Regions from separate parts of the Homo sapiens genome. Here region 2 is linked to region 1. The links come from fine-mapping of genetic effects on gene expression. A gene starts in region 1. The other region holds a variant in brackets. All regions are shown on one strand. Distances are between the middles of the regions.

Region 1 (8,954 bases):
GGTAGTCAGGGGACATATTGCAAACGGCTTTGTAAATCATGTTAGGAATTTTGGATTTGTGCTAAGAGTAATGAGGAGGTACCAGTAGGTTTTAAGTGGGGAAGAATTATATGTGTATAGTATTGTGCTTTGCTTTCTGATGGCTCTTGGGGCATTTTTCTAAAAATGATGAATTTCTAACCTTAACGATTACATTGTGTTTAGCATAAACTTTATCATGGACTATGTACCTGAAAATAACTTGCTGGATTAACTGGCATTTTTCATTCCTTTGTAAAACACACAGACAAACATTTAGGGCAAATGTAGTTATCAGCTTACATCTTCCTGAATGTCTGCCTATGTTTACTCCTGTCATTTGGTTGTGCCTGTGCCAAAAGTCAGTTATATTTTTCACAAACTTTTTCTTTTTTGCCAGTTATATGTGTGATAAGGAATATATACAATATGGATTTGAGATAAGTAAATTTTTCCTATTAAAACTAAGTTTAGGCCAGGTGTGGTGGCTCACGCCTGTAATCCCAGCATTTTCGGAGGCTGAGGCGGGCGATCACCTGAGGTCAGGAGTTCAAGACCAGTCTGGCCAACATGGCGAAACCCTGTCTCTACTAAAAATACAAAAATTAGCCAGGCGTGGTGGCATGCACCAGTAATCCCAGCTACTCAGGAGGCTGAGGCAGGAGAATCGCTTGAACCCAGGAGGTGGAGGTTGCAGTGAGCCAAGATTTTTCCATTGCACTCTAGCCTGGAAGACAAGAGCGAGACTCTGTTTCAAAAAATAAAATAAAATAAAATATAAGTTTAATACTAAGTATATGAGAAAATTCTACAAGCTTGGGAAAAAAATTGAACATAGAATGACTTGGCACTCTAATTGTGTGGCAAGGGTCTTTGAGAACTTCCACTTAAACTAAACCTGCAAATCATAGTGGTATATCATAACTGTGGTTTATGACTTCAAACTCTAGGATGTGGTTGAAATTCTTGGCCCTACATCAAAAGATTTGTGAACAAATATATATTTATTTATTCTAGGGTAAAATATGTGGCTTAAGATATATTTAGGATGTATTGACTTTGGTCTTTTGATGAACTTTTTTCATTTGCCAAGTACTATCCCCAATTGAATCGGATAATATGGCTTTTTTATATTGCACAGAAATTAAGCATGAACTACACGAATAATGAAGCACTTAAAAACTATTTAAATACTCTTGATTGACAACACTTACCTCTTAAAACAGTCCATAGTATTGAAAGATTTGAGGTCCACCCTCTACCAGGGTCCATGACCCAGTGGCTTTGCCTCCAGAAGGTCTGCTTCTACTATATTAAAAATAACTTGGCTACCCCAAGGCAGGATGACAGAAATCCTGGCTGCATTCCTTTCCTTCTGATCCACCAGTCAGGTTTTTGGAGCCATTTCCATTTTCTCCTTTCTTCTCTCCAGGAGCAGAGGTAACTTGGAAGAGATTGCCATAAAAACAGCTTGATGAAACTAATGGAAACTTGCTGCCTTCAGCTCTGGAGCCCCCTCCCCCAATGGCTCCTGCCTCACACAGACCAGGGAAAGAAAGTCCTGATGGAAGAATGATGTTTAGTGTGAGGGGCCTCACTTTAGTATCTATTTTCCCCAAAATTATGTGGTCCACATACCTTATTTTTGTTTTAAAATCACTAAAAAAGCAATACAAACTCATAGCAGAAGTCTCAAACGGTGCAGAAAGGTAAAGTCACACACTGTAAATGTAGCCTCTGGCAAGACATGGAGCCTCTCTGATCTCCAGTGTTTCCATTTGCTAAATAGGATAATGAGAGCTAATTTGTAGAGATGCTCTGAAGATATAATGAGATAATAGATGCAAAATACCTACTGTTATTTTATTTATGGTTATTGTGTCAGTCCATTTGCATTGCAGTAAACTTCGGGTGACATAAAGAAAAGCGGTTTACTTTAGGTCAGTTCTGCTGGCTGTACAACGCAAGTGTGGTGCTGGCATCTGCTCTGGTGAGACCTTAGAAAGCTTACAATCATGGTGGATGGTGAAAGGGAGACAGCGTGTCACATGACAGGAGAGGGAGCAAGCGAGAGAGAGAAGGGAGTTGCCACACTTTTAAACAACCAGATCTCTTGTGAGCTCAGAGCAAGAATTCAGTCATTACCATGAAGAGGGCACCAAGCCATTCATGAGGGATTCTCCTCTATGAACCAAAGACCTTCCACTAGGCCCCACCTCCAACATTGGAGGTCACATTTCAATATGAGATTTGGAAAGGACAAAACATCTAAACCATTAGTTATATATACACTATTTTCATTTGCTTAACCAAAAAATACTTTTCCAGTACTGAGAAGTTTGTTGTTTTCCAGCATATTGAAAACACTGGGAGGGACAAGGTAAGAATGATAAGGGTGGAAAAGGACAATGAACTACAATGGTAAATGGGGTGATGTCACAGCAGGTGACATTTATATTGCACTATGAGATGTCCCACAGTTACTCCAAATACAAAGAGACCACAACTGAACAAGGCAGGGCTCATTACTCTAGGCCAGTTAATGTTGATAAGGTCATAAGCAGCCACCTAAGATCTCAATTTGTCAATTTAGGTGTCACACTAGGCATATCTCCTCCTCTTCCAATTAACCGTATCTGTTTATTGTAGTCTTATATACTGTGTCTCCTACTCTTTTCTTCTCCTTTTCAGTTTCAATGACCTTTGGCATCTCCTATGGGTTTTGGCAAACACCTCTAAACTGGCATCTTCTCTTCCAATTTATCCCCCTTTAATCCATCTGCCATACTGAGAGCAAAGTGATCCTCCTAAAATGCACAACTGGTAGCAAGTTTCTTCCCTGATTAATTTCTTTCATTATCATCTACTGTGTGAATTTCAATTTCTGTATACAGCATCTAAGTTTATTACAGAAGTTAACAAATGTGAAGTACTTGAGCACACAGTAAGTACTATAGAAATGCTTGTTATTATTATTTTTTTAATGACCTGGTCTCCACTCTCCTTTTCAATCTAAAACACTGTCATTCCTCCATTAGAATAATTGCTCACACTTTTGCAAGCCCACTGTGCTTACACACATCTGGGCTTCACACACACACACACACACACACACACACACACACACACACTCTTCCACGTTCCTGATTTCTCCTGTGTGGAAGTCTTACTCTTTTTTATATTCTACCTCTCCTGGTGTTTCATAGCCCCTACATACACAAGATATTTTCTTCCAATTCTGAGACCTCTGGACTTGTATTGCTTTTCTGTTTGTAGCCACCACATTGGGTTCTAATTTGTTCCTGTGTTCCTCTCCCCTAATAGATGTTGAGCTCCTGGAATGCAGGGATTGTATTTTACTTATTCCAAGCACCTGAAGAAATGCTGGCACATGGTAAGCAACTAGTATTTAGTAAGATTTTTTTGAACAAATGAAAAGGATAGGCTAGAATTAGATAAAATGTAATTAAGAATATTTAATGATATGGAAAGAAATTCCCACTAGGGCAGAGAAAAGAAGTTTAGTCAAAATCTGGCGCGCTGCAGTTTAACTTCTAGCTAAGCAATGATGGCGGTGATGCAGCAAAGCCTATTTGTTTGAGATCCTGGCTTTTTGATCCGTTGGTGCCACCCACGCTATGTGCTGGATGGGGGTAATCAATATACCACCTTCTCTGCTACTTTGGGCTCAGGTGGAAGGAATTTTATTCCACTCTCTGCAAATCTTCCCGGTGCCTCAGTGGGAAGTGGACGCTGTGAGGGTCTACCAGCTCCCAGAAGGCCTCCCCTTTCTGTTTCCCCTAGGGCCCTCCACCCGGGCTGCAGCCCCAGCATCGCGTCCTCTCGGAGCAGCCTGGCCCCAGGTGGCTGCGGGGCGCGGGACCGCGGGCCCCGGCTCGCCCCTCCCCGCGCGTCACATGCGCGAGGATGCGAACTCCCCTTCCCTCCTCCTCCGCCCCCTCCGCCTCCCGGGCCTCTTCCTCCTGCCGGTGAGGGAGTGCTTGGCAGATTGCGCGAGGGGGAGCGAGCGAGCGGGCGCTGCCAGGAGCCCGCAGCCCTGGCGCCCGCCGCCGCCCGGAGCCCCGCAATATGCCGCCGCGGCCCTCTGGCTCTAGGCCATGGCGAGGCTCTGCCGGCGTGTCCCCTGCACCCTGCTTCTCGGCCTGGCCGTGGTGCTGCTGAAAGCGCGGCTGGTCCCCGCGGCCGCCAGAGCGGAACTCAGCCGCTCCGACCTCAGCCTCATCCAACAGCAGCAGCAGCAGCAGCAACAACAACAACAACAGCAAAAGCAGCTGGAGGAGGCTGAGGAGGAGAGGACAGAGGTGCCTGGGGCAACCTCCACCTTGACGGTTCCAGGTAGGTCCTGGCTGCCCAGCCCGGTCTTTCAGTCTCGGCCGGCGATCTCTTAGGGCCTCGCCGGCTTCCTCGCCCCTTCCCTATCCATTCCTATCCTCGTTCGTTCCTGTCACCATCCCTCCCGATCTCTCTCCCCAGACTGGCTGCCCAGCCTTTGGTCCCTTGATCTGGTGTCGGGAATCTGCCCTCCGGGTAATGAGCTTTCTGAGCAGCTCAGAGCACTGCGGTGGGTTGGAGAGGGGTCGGGAAGGCTGGGGGTGGGTGACTGCCTGGATTGATCTTTTTCTTTTCCCTCCCTTCTTCCTGAATTCTACCCTCTGCCCTGGGAATGACTGTAACACACACACACACACACACACACACACACACACACACACACACACCGTTCTTAAATCCCTTAAACATTTTGTTCTCTATCCTTTTCTCTCCTAGAGACTGAGAAATCTTGCCATGGACACCCACACACCCCTTTTCACCATTTCTCCATGCCTGCTATATTTAAATTTAGCCATGAAGAGAGAAATCTTTATATATTTTATTATTTATTTCTCTTTCTCTTTACCCCAGGAAGGGTTTAAGGGTTCATCTTATTGCAAAGAACTCTTTTAGTACAATAAGATGAAGCAAAACAAAACAGGAGTTTGTAATTGAAGGAAAGGGAAAAGGAGAGGGGGACACATAAGGTGAAGTCTGGAGTGGTGTTAGAACAGCAAAAGCCTATCCCTAGAGAGAGAAATCTCCTTACTTGTTAGTAGAACTTAAATGAGGCAGATTCTTGACACTGTTCAGTGAAGGTGTAGAAATACGGCTGTAGTATAGGTGGCTGTAACAGTTCCGCAGTTCCTCCCTCTTTCCCCCCATTAAAGCTCCATCGGTAAGCAAATAGCTAGATTATCCATGTATATTGCATCTCCCTACCCCGCAACCCACTTCGCTTCATGGCTGTAGATTCTTGTCTGCTATTTGGAAAGAAAAAAAGCCTCCAATTTTCTGGCACGAGGGCTTAGGTTTTGTGAAACCAAAGTGAATTTTATTATGACGTTTGTTTTTGTTTTAAAATCCTGCCTGGTAACACTATATGAGTGCTGAAAATGAGATTTGAAAGAGTGGAATCAGCATCACATTTTGTATTGCTTGCTCATCGTCAAAAAGCAGTACACAGGCATGCCAGCTGCGATTCATGACACAGCCAGGATGATTTAATTTATCAGAGTGCTCTGAGCATAGGATGAAATCACCAAAGTGTGCAGGAAAGCATGTGTTTCTGACACCCTCTTAAACCAATTAATAACACTCAAGTGTGGCTAAAAGTCTTGAAAGGTATACAGTGTATGGTGGTTTTCCTACCCAGCTTTTAATAACTGAAAGTGATAATATGGTTTGGGTGAGGCTGCTGTTAGACATACTGTTCGCTAAAGTTAAGGAAATTGGATATATCAGATTGATTGGCCTCATTAATAGAGATATTTCATAAATTCACTATGAAGCCGAAGTCTGGGAGAGTGTTGGTGGGTTTTATGGTTTGCAGTATATTTTTATTTCAATGGACCTTTCAGGAATATTAAATGAATTTTGACTACTGTAATATATATATATATGTTGTGATTAGGGTTATGAACTACTGCAATAATATGAAACCTGAATCCAGCATGCAAATTAAAATGTTTGCTTTCTGATATTTGTGAGGGAATATTCTGAAAAAGCTGATTGTCTGGGAAATTAGCAGTTTTTGTTTTATTTACCTATTAGATTGAGATAAAGGAACCACACTCTTCGATAGATCAAACTAGAACCTGAGAAGTAACCTATGATGATTCTTCTTCCTCAAAAACTCTAATTACCCAAGCCAGTGGCAAACAAGGGAGTAATTCAATTGATTGCTGTTTTAGTTATTGGAATATTGAGTCTTATAATGCAACACAGCTTATAGACAAATGAAGTTAAAATATTCCTTTGAATGCATTGTGATCTCTCCATTGAACTGGTCTTCCTGTTTCAACCTTTGTTTCCCTACTGTCTGTTCTCCTCACACAGCTAGCGATCTTTAAAAAAAAAAAAAACATTAAATAGGATCATTTCTGCCCACACTCCTCCAATGGCTTCCCGTCTCTCTCATACTAGATGCCCAGATCGTGAAAATGGCCTACCAAGGTCTAGATCCTTTGTATCCTCCTTTTCCTCCCGTCTCCTTTAGCCCTTACCCTAACTCTCTCCACTGTAGCCACACTAGCTCTATTTTCTTTAGCTTGCAAGTGGACCCAAGTGTTTGGCCTTTGCACTTGCCATTTTCTCTGCCTGGAATTCTGGAACTTCACATTTTTCAGGTTTGCTCAAGTGTCTCAGTAACTGACAGACCTTTTCCTGACCAGGTGTTTAAAATAGTAATCTGCACATCCTTTTTGCTCTTACCCAGATTCATTCTCCTCCATGGTACTCATTATTCTCAGCTGTTCTAATAAGCCTGTTTTTCCCTTGATAGAACATAAGCTCTGTGAAAACATGGACTTTGTTTTGTTCACTGCTATATTTCTAGTATCTCGAAGAGCACCTGGTTGGTACCCATAGACATTCAACCATTTGTTGAATGGATGGACGGATGGATGGATGGATGGATGGATGGATGGATGGATGAATGAATGAATGAATTCACTTTCTCAGCATTTGTTCGTCTTCATTGGATAAATTCTCCATTGGAGTTTAGCAGGGGATTTATAAAGATAAACGTTATGTAGGAAAGTTTGTAAGTAGAAGTTATAAAGTATGTAAATTTTGGATCTTTAATTTTAGTTAATTTCAGTGTTTATCTTATGCTGACTACAGAAAACTGATTGATACCTATACTTGGGCCTACTTATTGGGTTTTGTGAAGAATTTGGGGTTTTTTTTGAGACAGGGTTGAGTGCAGTGGCGTGATCATGGCTCAAGTCAGTCTCAACCTCCTGGGCACAGCCTCCTGAATAGCTGAACTACAGATGCGTGCCGCTGGGCCCAGCTAATTTTTAATTTTTTTCTTTTTGTAGAGATAGGGTCCTGCTTTGTTGCTCAGGCTAGCCTCAAACTCTGGAACTCTGGGCTCAAGCAATCCTCCCATCTCAGCCTCCCAAAATGTTGGTTTACAAGCATGAACCATAATTCTTTACCTGAGTATACTTAATCTTCTTATGACCTAGGAGGATTTTAACATATATACCTTTAAATAGCTGTGATTGAGCTTGCATTCATTCTTTACCGCTGTATGATGCTTCTGATTCTTTGGACATGCCACATGAAAAACTGTAGGACTTTTCTCAGGCAAAATTTAGAAAACAAATATGACACATTCAATGACTGATATATGACTAAGCCTTATCAGTCCATAGTAGAGAAACTCACCATTGCCTTTGCTTAGTATTCTCTGGATTTTATTATTCTAAAAATTTATGTCTCTTTGTATTGCTGAGAAACAAGAAAGCAAGATTAAAAAAAAACTTGAATGTGAACATTTTTTAAAAATCAGGATTTAAAAAAGTACATTTCCATTTTCTCATTAACTTATAAAAACTCCATCTTCAGAGAGCAGTGAAAATAAAGACTAAGGTTGGTATCCATCAAATCAATTGTTTTCTCCAGTGTATACAACAGCTCTTATTTCTCCATCTGTACCAGTATTTGTTAGAAATATTTGAGGGTCCTGAGAAGAATTAATCTGGGAGCTAGTGGTAGTTGGGACAACCATATTATATTAATTCTGATGGCCCATTAGATGGGAGGCATGCTGGGGTTGGGGGAGAGAGGAGCTGGAGAAAAATAATGAGCTCCATTTAAAATTCTCCATGTGAAGCAGAGACACAGGGGATCTCCAGGGATCATAGAAATGTCTTTTCAGTACAGAGAAAGCTTCTTGAGAGGTATATTTTCATGGTGTGAAAATTTTTGATTGCATATTTCAGTGATATCTATTTTTAAACTTTTTATTTCGCAAGATGTTAAATATATAGAAAGTAAACAGGATAGTGTAATAAAAGCCTATACCTGTCACCTAGCTTTAACAATGGTCAAAATTCTGCCATTGTTTTTTCACCCATACTTCTACCTGTTTCCACTACGTGGGATTTGTTTTTAATTTTTAATTTTTATGGGAACACAGTAGGTGTATATATTTATGGGCTACATGAGATATTTTGATACAGGCATAAAATGTATAATTATCACATCAGGGTAAACATTTATCATTTGTGTTACAAACATTCCAGTTATACTTTCAGTTATGTTAAAATGTACAATAAGTTATTGTTTACTATATTTACCCTGTTGTGCTATCAAGTAGTAGATCTTATTCGTTCTACCTGACTATATTTTTATACTCATTGACCATCCCCACTTCTTCCCCACTCCCAATACCCTTCCCAGACTCTGGTAACCATCATTCTAATCTCTATCTCCGTGAGTTTAATGGTTTTACATTTTAGTTCCCACAAATGAGTGAGAATATGCAAAGTTTGTCTGTGCCTGGCTTATTTTACTTAATGTCCTCCTGTTCCATTCATGTTGTTGCAAATGAGAGGATCTGATCCTTGTTAATGGTTGAATAGTACTCCATT
Region 2 (8,954 bases), 26 kb before region 1:
TTTTTTCTCAGTCTGGATTTGTATTGTTAACTTGTAGTGATCAAAAGAAGATCTATATTGGGGATGACAACCCTCTGACATTGATTGTTAAGGCTCAGAATCAAGGAGAAGGTGCCTACGAAGCTGAGCTCATCGTTTCCATTCCACTGCAGGCTGATTTCATCGGGGTTGTCCGAAACAATGAAGTAAGCAGGCTGCCTCTTTAAAAATTGAAATGCACTCACGGATCTTATTAACATTAATGAGCTGTTCCCCTATTTAGTGAAGCACAAGCTTAGCTATTCTACCTAAGGCTAAATTGATAGACAATGGAGTGCCTATCTTACATAATTCCTTTTAAGCCTAATACTTTGCATAATGCATTGATATGACATTTTTAGAATTGCAAGCTAAGTGCCTGGAAACAAGGTTAGATAGATAAAGTGTCTAAGCCTGTCCATCAAATTATTTGTCAGAGGCTGTATGGTTTTGTATGGTAGTCCTCTAGGGATCTTTCAGAAACACTTCTGCATTTCCATGTGGCAATTGTACCCAATTCTGGCTTTTTCCTTACCTCCTGGTTTGCTCAACTAGATTTATTTGCTTAGGACAAGAAACTGAAATATCCAACTGCGTGATACTTTATTTCCTTTCATATCCATTTTTTTTTTTTTTTTTGGTCTATCAAAGGCCTTAGCAAGACTTTCCTGTGCATTTAAGACAGAAAACCAAACTCGCCAGGTGGTATGTGACCTTGGAAACCCAATGAAGGCTGGAACTCAAGTAAGACAATTTAATTAAACGGATTTTTCTCCCTGGCAAATAGAAAAGCATATTGTTGTCTGGGCTCATAGTAATTTTTAAAAATAAACACTTCAAAACAATGTCCTTAAATTGGTTTCGATATAATAGTTAAATGATTAGCAGAGTTTTGCTTAGTTTTAACTAAGATACGAAAACAATTGGTTGTGCTCCTACACGGTTTGCAATCAGCTGCTCTTTATGCCTCCTTCACTTTAGTGAATGGATGAGAACGTGGTTTAAACTAAGGACTGAAATAATAATTTTTGCTATTTTACACTGATGCCTTAATGGATCCTGAAAAGCTACTCTGGCAACTACCAAGACTGTCAATCCTAGGTGAGCTAGATTCCATCACAGGCCCCACACAGAGGATCAAAGTGAAGGTCAGTTAAATCAGGCTCCCCTTCAGATGGTGGAGCAGGGTGCCCAGGAGCTTGAAAAGAAGCAGCCAATGGCTTGCTTTCCGAATCCTCTAAAAAGTAAACAAAATATACCTTGTAGAATTTCTAGTAGCAAGGACAAAATGGCAGCATATGCTGTGTGACTTTTTCAATAGAATTTATTTAATGACTTATTGATACTGGTACTTTGAAGATCTGTGGTAATACAGGTCTAAATATTCCATATTTCTTTAGTATGTTTTCTATTACAAGTCATTAGTATTTCTAGATGTATGGTATCTTAGGGATGAGAACTTGAACAAATTACCCTAAGTTCAGTTTTTCACGTGTATTCAATGTTTTATTAACAATGAGCATGCCTTTTATTTTCTCATATTCTCATTCTCTCTAACTTTCTGGTTATTATATAGTTTCTGCTTATTACAAGTAGCCAGCTCCAGGTTTTGTGGAGTGGGAGGCAGAACCCAGGAAGTACTGTTTTTATATGTCATTTGTGTGATCCCCAAGAAGCCTTCTTTTTTGTACCTGGTGGTTCAATTGTTTTATTTAAAATCTACCAATTTTCTGCCTGCAGGAATTAGGATATTTGGTGTTGGGAGTGTTATGAGAGGTGTGTGGAGAAATTCTGGTTGTGGCCCTACTCATGCCTTCTTTAGCCATGTTCCCTTACTCTAGTAAACCATCCATTTCTTCTTTCCTGGCCTATGAACACAGCACATACTTTGGTGGTTAGCTTCGTGTTATCAAATTATTGTACCCAGTTGCTAGACTTTCACTGGATCAACAAACATTTACTTTTGCACTTTTTAGAAAGATGGTTAGTATTATAAGGAGGTATAATTATGATTAATAATTGTTGTTAAATAGGCTCTCTTATGGATTGGTCCAGGTATATTAAGTAAAATAGGTTTGATAGAAAATAAGATTTAGTTATCTTTGTTCAGTTTTATTGTAAGCTCAGAAAAACCCCATTTTAGAACATTATTTTTTATTTAGACATTGGATTTGAAATTTTGCTAATTAGACATTGACTAGCATTACTATCTTTTCCTCTCTCCTTTAGCTCTTAGCTGGTCTTCGTTTCAGTGTGCACCAGCAGTCAGAGATGGATACTTCTGTGAAATTTGACTTACAAATCCAAAGGTATGAAAACAACTTATATTCACTTATAACTATCAAATAAATATTATTTGTTGTAAATATACTATGTAATATACTTTAAATATAAAGTAGCAGATTAAATTTTATTGCTTGACTATAGCATTTTAAAATCAATATTTACATTATAAGAATAATTTTATTGTCAGATTTGAGTTTGTAAAACAAAATTTAAAATCCAGAAAGAAAATGTTCATCTTCTTGGAATTAAGTGTTAATGAAAATAACTATTTTGAGGTATAAGCTTTACACTTGTTTCGTTTGTTAATTTTTAGTTTCACTGGGTTTGCCTCTGTATGTTCTTGGTTGTTATGCATAATTCATTTTTAAGTTTTTTTTTTTCTTTTTCAGCTCAAATCTATTTGACAAAGTAAGCCCAGTTGTATCTCACAAAGTTGATCTTGCTGTTTTAGCTGCAGTTGAGATAAGAGGGTCAGTATGAATACTTAGTTGAGTATCTCATTCTCATGATTGCTTTTTAAAGGTAACTGTCAGGCCTTAGCCTTTTCTGGACAATAGACCCTGCATGTTTAGTGGTGGTTTTACTAGGGCATTAGCTTCTGTAGAAATAAAATCCTAGGTATGTTCCAAACCCCCAATACTGGGTGATCCTCAAAAGGAACAAGACATGGCAACAACATGCACAAAATAATTTTGTTGAACTTTTACACAAATTGTCAATTCACCTGTTACGTGTACATTTCATAAGAGCAGTTTTTGTGCATGTGTGTGTTCATTAGTTTTCTTTTAAAGTATTTTTTAAAATTAAATCTAATTTTATTTATTTGAGTAATGAATATGGGGTACTTTTGAAAATGAACTGACTATATCATTTTGATATTCATGGTAGGTTTTCTTTGGTCATTGTTTAGAGTCTCGAGTCCTGATCATGTCTTTCTTCCGATTCCAAACTGGGAGCACAAGGAGAACCCTGAGACTGAAGAAGATGTTGGGCCAGTTGTTCAGCACATCTATGAGGTTTGCAGTTGTTAGATTTTACTCAAACCTCGTGAGCAAGCCAACGAAGAGAGGAACAACTAAGCTACTTTAAAAAAAAAATTCTATGTAATTTTTATGTAAACTCTACATTGGTTAAGTATGTGTCAGAGATTTCTTTGAATATTTTCCCTATACATAAATTCATTTTTATTTGACAAATAGACTTGTTTAAATAAAGCAGTTTATATAATTTGTTGTTTAAAATAAATTAGTTCTACTTGAATAAAGAAATGTCATTGGTACTTTCTCATGGGCATTTTGTAGTTCTGGCTAAAAATTGAAAATACCTATGGCAAATAATCAAAACTATTTCTATAGGAAGAAATTTTCTTTGTCATCCTTCATTAATAACTTTTAAATATTTTGCCTTTTGTTTATACATACATACATATATATATATATATATATATATATATATATTTTTTTTTTTTTTTTTTTTTTTTTTTGAGGTGAAGTCTTGCTCTGTCGCCCAGGCTGGAGTGCAGTGGCGCGATCTCAGCTCACTGCAAACTCCACCTCCCGGGTTCAAGCGATTCTCCTGCCTCAGCTTGCTGAGTAGCTGGGATTACACGTGTGCACCACCATGCCCGGCTAATTTTTGTATTTTTAGTAGGGACAGGGTTTCACCGACAGGTTTCACCACGTTGGCCAGGCTGGACATGAACTCCTGACCTCAAGAGATCCGCCCGCCTCGGCCTCCCAAAGTGCTGGGATTACAGGCATGAGCCACTGTGCCCAACCTTGTTTATATTTTTATCCTGACACATATTACTCTGTGTTAGAGACAAATGTTGAGTTTGATCATTTTTGCATAAAAATGGTCACATTGTAATTAGAGGTTAACTGTGGAAATTGCTGTTATTTAAAACCTATTGCTAACATGATTTCTAAAGTTGATGTAGGGGAAGGATTATGGAACAGATTTTTGCCCAAGGTGTAGATACATTTTCTTTTTTCTCCTTAGCTGAGAAACAATGGTCCAAGTTCATTCAGCAAGGCAATGCTCCATCTTCAGTGGCCTTACAAATATAATAATAACACTCTGTTGTATATCCTTCATTATGATATTGATGGACCAATGAACTGCACTTCAGATATGGAGATCAACCCTTTGAGAATTAAGGTAATATGCTTAATAGCAGCTCTTCATTACAATGATATTTCATTGCCTTCTTTCTAAACCTGTAAAAGAAATTCATAAAATAAAACAACTATTTTAATATAAAACCCACTCTGCAAAAAATGGTTTAGTTCATAAGCAGTACACTTAGGATAAGTTCATTTGTATAATGGGTAAGAATTGATTCTGTGATGTCTAGTGAACCACATCTTCATAGAGTGCTTACTGAGCCTCATGAGATGTGTCCTTCAGTGACTCAGTTTGACCTTGGCTCCATCACGTTGTTGTTTCTTCAGGGCATAATATCACATCAAGGGTGTTTTGTTGTTAAAATTTCTACCTTTGGGATAAGCTATACCATTTTACTCATGATTATCTTGACTTTTGGATATAGTCATCTCCATCATAGATTTGCACTAGAAACTATTACACAATATGATCTAAGGAAAGGTGAAGAAACAAAATAAAAGATATACCCATGATTGACATCACAAATGTACTGTGGAATTTCAGGCCATTTCTGTATGTTTCATCAGTT[T/G]CCACTCTAGCTAAGCAAGGGCTGAAAATAATGGTTAGGGAGAGCTAACTTTTTTGGTACATATTAAAGACTCTAATCTTTATTTTCTGTCCTTACTGCTCACTATATACTGAGTGGTAAATATTCTGTCATACTAAATTTTCATTCACTATTTTTTAATCATATCTAAGAGTTTATATCAAAATGCTGATGTAAAATGTTTTTCATTATCATTTACCACCATTTTATTAATGTGATTGCATTAGATCTCATCTTTGCAAACAACTGAAAAGAATGACACGGTTGCCGGGCAAGGTGAGCGGGACCATCTCATCACTAAGCGGGATCTTGCCCTCAGTGAAGGAGATATTCACACTTTGGTAAGTGCCATTTCAAATATGTGCACCATAGACATTTAAAAATATGTGACTATAGAACTGACGCCAAAGAACATTTCAAAAATAACAACAGCTGTGCTTGAACAACTACATTTATTTTTATACCATGCATTCCTCTCACTTTCCTTTTTCCTAGTCAGATTAATGCCATATTTTCTTCAAATGAGCTATTTTTGTAGATGGCTAATAAAACTAGTTTATGTCCCAACTTTGATTCTCCTACTCTAGTTCTTTAACTGTCCTCTTTCTGGGCCTCCTCCTAATCTCTGAGGCTTTAGTACGATACTAAAAAATCCAGAAGGTCCCAACAAAAATACATTGGAATAATAATTAGCACTTGATTAACCTTTGTTGAGTTAGCCTATATAATGGCTATAATGTTTTTAAAGGCAATTGTTTTTCTTTTTTCTTTTAATTAACAAATCTCCAGATCTCTAGTAGAGAACCTGGTATAGTGTTTTTTGTTTGTTTGTTTGTTTGTTTTTTGACACAGAGCCTCACTTTGTCACCCAGGCTGGAGTGCAATGACACAAACACAGCTCACTGAGGCCTTGACCTCCCAGGCTCAAGCAATCCTCCCCTATCAGTCCCCCAAGTAGCTAGGACTATAGGCGCTCTCCCCCATGCCCAGCTAAGTTTTGTATTTTTTGTTGAGATGAGGTTTCACCATGTTGCCCAGGCTGGTCTCAAATTCCTGAGCTCAAGCGATCTGCCCACCTCAGCCTCCTAAAGTGCTGGGATGACAGGCATGAACCACCATGCCCAGCACTGTTTATGTTCAATAGTGATCACTAGTTACTTTTACATCACCAAATTCTGTGGTTCTTGTTAGTCCTCAACCATTCAATTGCCTAGTGGCTTTGGTTCACTTAATCACTTCCTTCTGTTGACTCTCATGGCTGTAAATACCATGTGGTGTAGATGCTTTGATTTATATTTCCAGTCTGATCTTCTGCATTGAACTTCAGATTCCAATATCCAACTGCCTACTAGAAACTGCTTTTAAATATCTAATAGGAATCTCAAACAATTCTAAATATATACCCTTGGGTTTTCCCAAGTCTGCTCTTTCCATAAAGTTCTTAGTTGATTTTAGTAAATACCAACTTCATTCTCTAACACCTGGACCTCATGCTTGACTCCTCTCTTTCTCTCAAATCTCACGTCTTGTATTTCAGCAAATTGCATCAGTATTTTCTTTCAAAATACCTAGAATCTGGCCCCTTCTCACCAGTTTCATCACTAACACAACCTAACCCAGGCTCCTTTCCCTTCTCGATTGGACTATTGCCAGACCCCTGGTTGGCCTCTGTATTTCTGCCTTTCTCCCCACTATACTTTGTATGCTATAGAAGCCCCAGTGATCCTTTTAAATATAGGTCAGGTTGTGTCACTCCAGTGCCTTCCCATCTAACTCAATGAGAAAGCAAGAGGCTACAATGACCTTTAAGCCCAACATCAACAGGCCCTTCCTGCCTCTCTGCTTGCATCTCCTCTCCTTACTATTCTCTTTCTCAAATTTTCCACCTTGCTTTCATTGAACAGATAGCCCCAAGCATGTTTATTCCTCCATGCTTTGAAAATTGCTCTTCCATCTGCCTGGAATTCTTTGTCCAGATATCCTTGTGGCTTATTTTCCCATATCCTTCTCATGTCCTTAAAAGTAAAATTATGTCAGAGATCTTCCCTGACCAACCCATGTGAAATAGAAACTGCCTTCTACCTCCCAACCCCACTTTTGATCTTGCACTTTCTGTCCTCCTTCAGAATCTGTTTTCTTTAATTGAGACAAAACTTACACAAAATTAACCATTTTAATGATTTTAAAGTGCATAATTTAGTGTTTTTTAGTATAATTACAACATTGAACCACCATTACCACTATAATTGTAAACATTTTTGTCACCCCAAAAAGAAATGCTGTACCCATTAAGCAGTTTATCCATTCTCCCCTATCACCAGCCCCTGGTGACCACTAATCTGCATTCCTACTGATTTGCCTATTCTGGACATTTCATACATATAGTATCATACAACATATGGCCTTTTGTGTCTAGCCTTCTTTCATGTAGCATGTTTTCAAGATCTATGTTGTGGTGTGCCTTAGTACTCCTTTTTTTTTTTTTTTTCTTTTTTTGAGACAGAGTCTCGCTCTGTCACCCAGGCTGGAGTCCAGTGGCGAAATCTCGGATCACTGCAAGCTCCACCTCCCGGGTTCACGCCATTCTCCTGCCTCAGCCTCCCGAGTAGCTGGGACTACAGGCACCCACCACCACACCCGGCTAATTTTTTTGTGTTTTTAGTAGAGACGGGGTTTCACCATGTTAGCCAGGATGCTTGATCTCCTGACCTCGTGATCCGCCCGCCTCGGCCTCCCAAAGTGTTGGGATTACAGGCGTGAACTACCATGCCCAGCCAGTACTTCATTTTTATGCCTGAATAATACTCCATTGTGTGGACATACCACCTTTTGTTTATCTATTTATCAGTTGATCAACATTTCGATTATTTCTACTTTTTGTCTGTTTTGAATGTGTTGCTATGAACATTGATGCATAAATTTCCATGTAAACATGTTTTTCAGTTTTATTGAGAATAAACATAAGAGTGCAATTGCTAGGTCATGTGGAAACTCTATGTTTAACTTTTGGAGGAACTGCCAAACTATTTTCCAAAGTTGCTGCAGCATTTTGCAATCCCAACCAGCAATATATGAGGGTCCTATTTTCTCCACATCTTTGTCAACACTTATTATTTTCTGCTTTTGTTTGTTTTAAAATTTTTATAATCATCCTGGTTGGTGTGAAGAAGTAACTCATTGTGGTTTTGATATGCATTTCCCTGTAGACTGATGATATTCAGCATCTTTTCAGTTGTGTATCTTTTTTAGACAAATGTCTATTCAAATTTTTTGCCCATTTTTAAATTGGGTTATTTGCCTTTTATTGTTGAGTTGCAAAGAGTTATTTATATATTCTGGATACTACCTTCATTAGATATATGATTGCACAGGTTTTGTCTCATTCTGTGTGAACTGTCTTTTTACTTTCTTGATGGTGTCCTTTAATGCACAAAAATTTTTAAATCTGAAGTTCAATTTATCTATGTCTTCTTTTGTTGCTTGTAATTTTGTCATCATATTTTTAAAACCATTGCCCAATACAAGGTCATGAAGATTCATACCTAGGCTTTTTGGTTTTATAAGTTTTACACTTACAGCTCTTACATTTACATCCCTGATTCATTTTGGGTTAATTTATGTGTATGGTGTGAGGTAGGGGTCCAGATTGATTCTTTTGTGTGTGGCTATCCACCTGTCTGAGCAACATTTGTTGAAGAAATTATTCTTTCCCCTTAAATGGTCTTGGCAGTCTTGTTGGAGATGAATTGATTATAAATATATGGATTTATTTCTAGACATTCAGTTCTATTCAGTTGACCTATATGTATATCCTTAATACAAGTAACAAATTGTTTTGATTACCATAGCTCTGGAGTTCAGGTTTTGAAATAGGGAAATATGAATACATTTTATTCCTTTTAAGATTATTTTGGTTAGAGTCCCTTGCGATTCCATG

Which allele goes with the higher level. Positions count from the first base shown, and alleles are read on the strand shown. Sizes are in standard deviations (SD) of each study's normalised expression.
With allele T in place of G in region 2, the expression in sigmoid colon of the gene that starts at base 4,023 in region 1 is higher (small effect, 0.32 SD a copy in GTEx).

Evidence for each region. PIP is the estimated chance that this variant, and not a neighbour inherited with it, causes the effect.
Region 2: its variant is fine-mapped to the expression of FAM171B in sigmoid colon (GTEx, PIP above 0.99). The same link has a PIP of 0.9 or more in esophagus mucosa, esophagus muscle, sun-exposed skin and unexposed skin.

Annotation. Positions count from the first base shown.
Region 1 is chr2:186,690,038-186,698,991 of GRCh38, forward strand. FAM171B (family with sequence similarity 171 member B) reads left to right here and starts at 4,023. Exons shown (of 8, transcript NM_177454.4): 1 at 4,023-4,374. The coding sequence starts at 4,137. RefSeq lists a silencer at 3,827-4,186.
Region 2 is chr2:186,664,457-186,673,410 of GRCh38, forward strand. ITGAV (integrin subunit alpha V) reads left to right here. Exons shown (of 30, transcript NM_002210.5): 20 at 38-185; 21 at 670-762; 22 at 2,248-2,327; 23 at 2,694-2,774; 24 at 3,215-3,320; 25 at 4,306-4,464; 26 at 5,245-5,358. Among named protein-coding and RNA genes, the nearest start is that of FAM171B, 25 kb to the right of the region's middle. The variant T/G (reference allele first, on the strand shown) is at 5,000.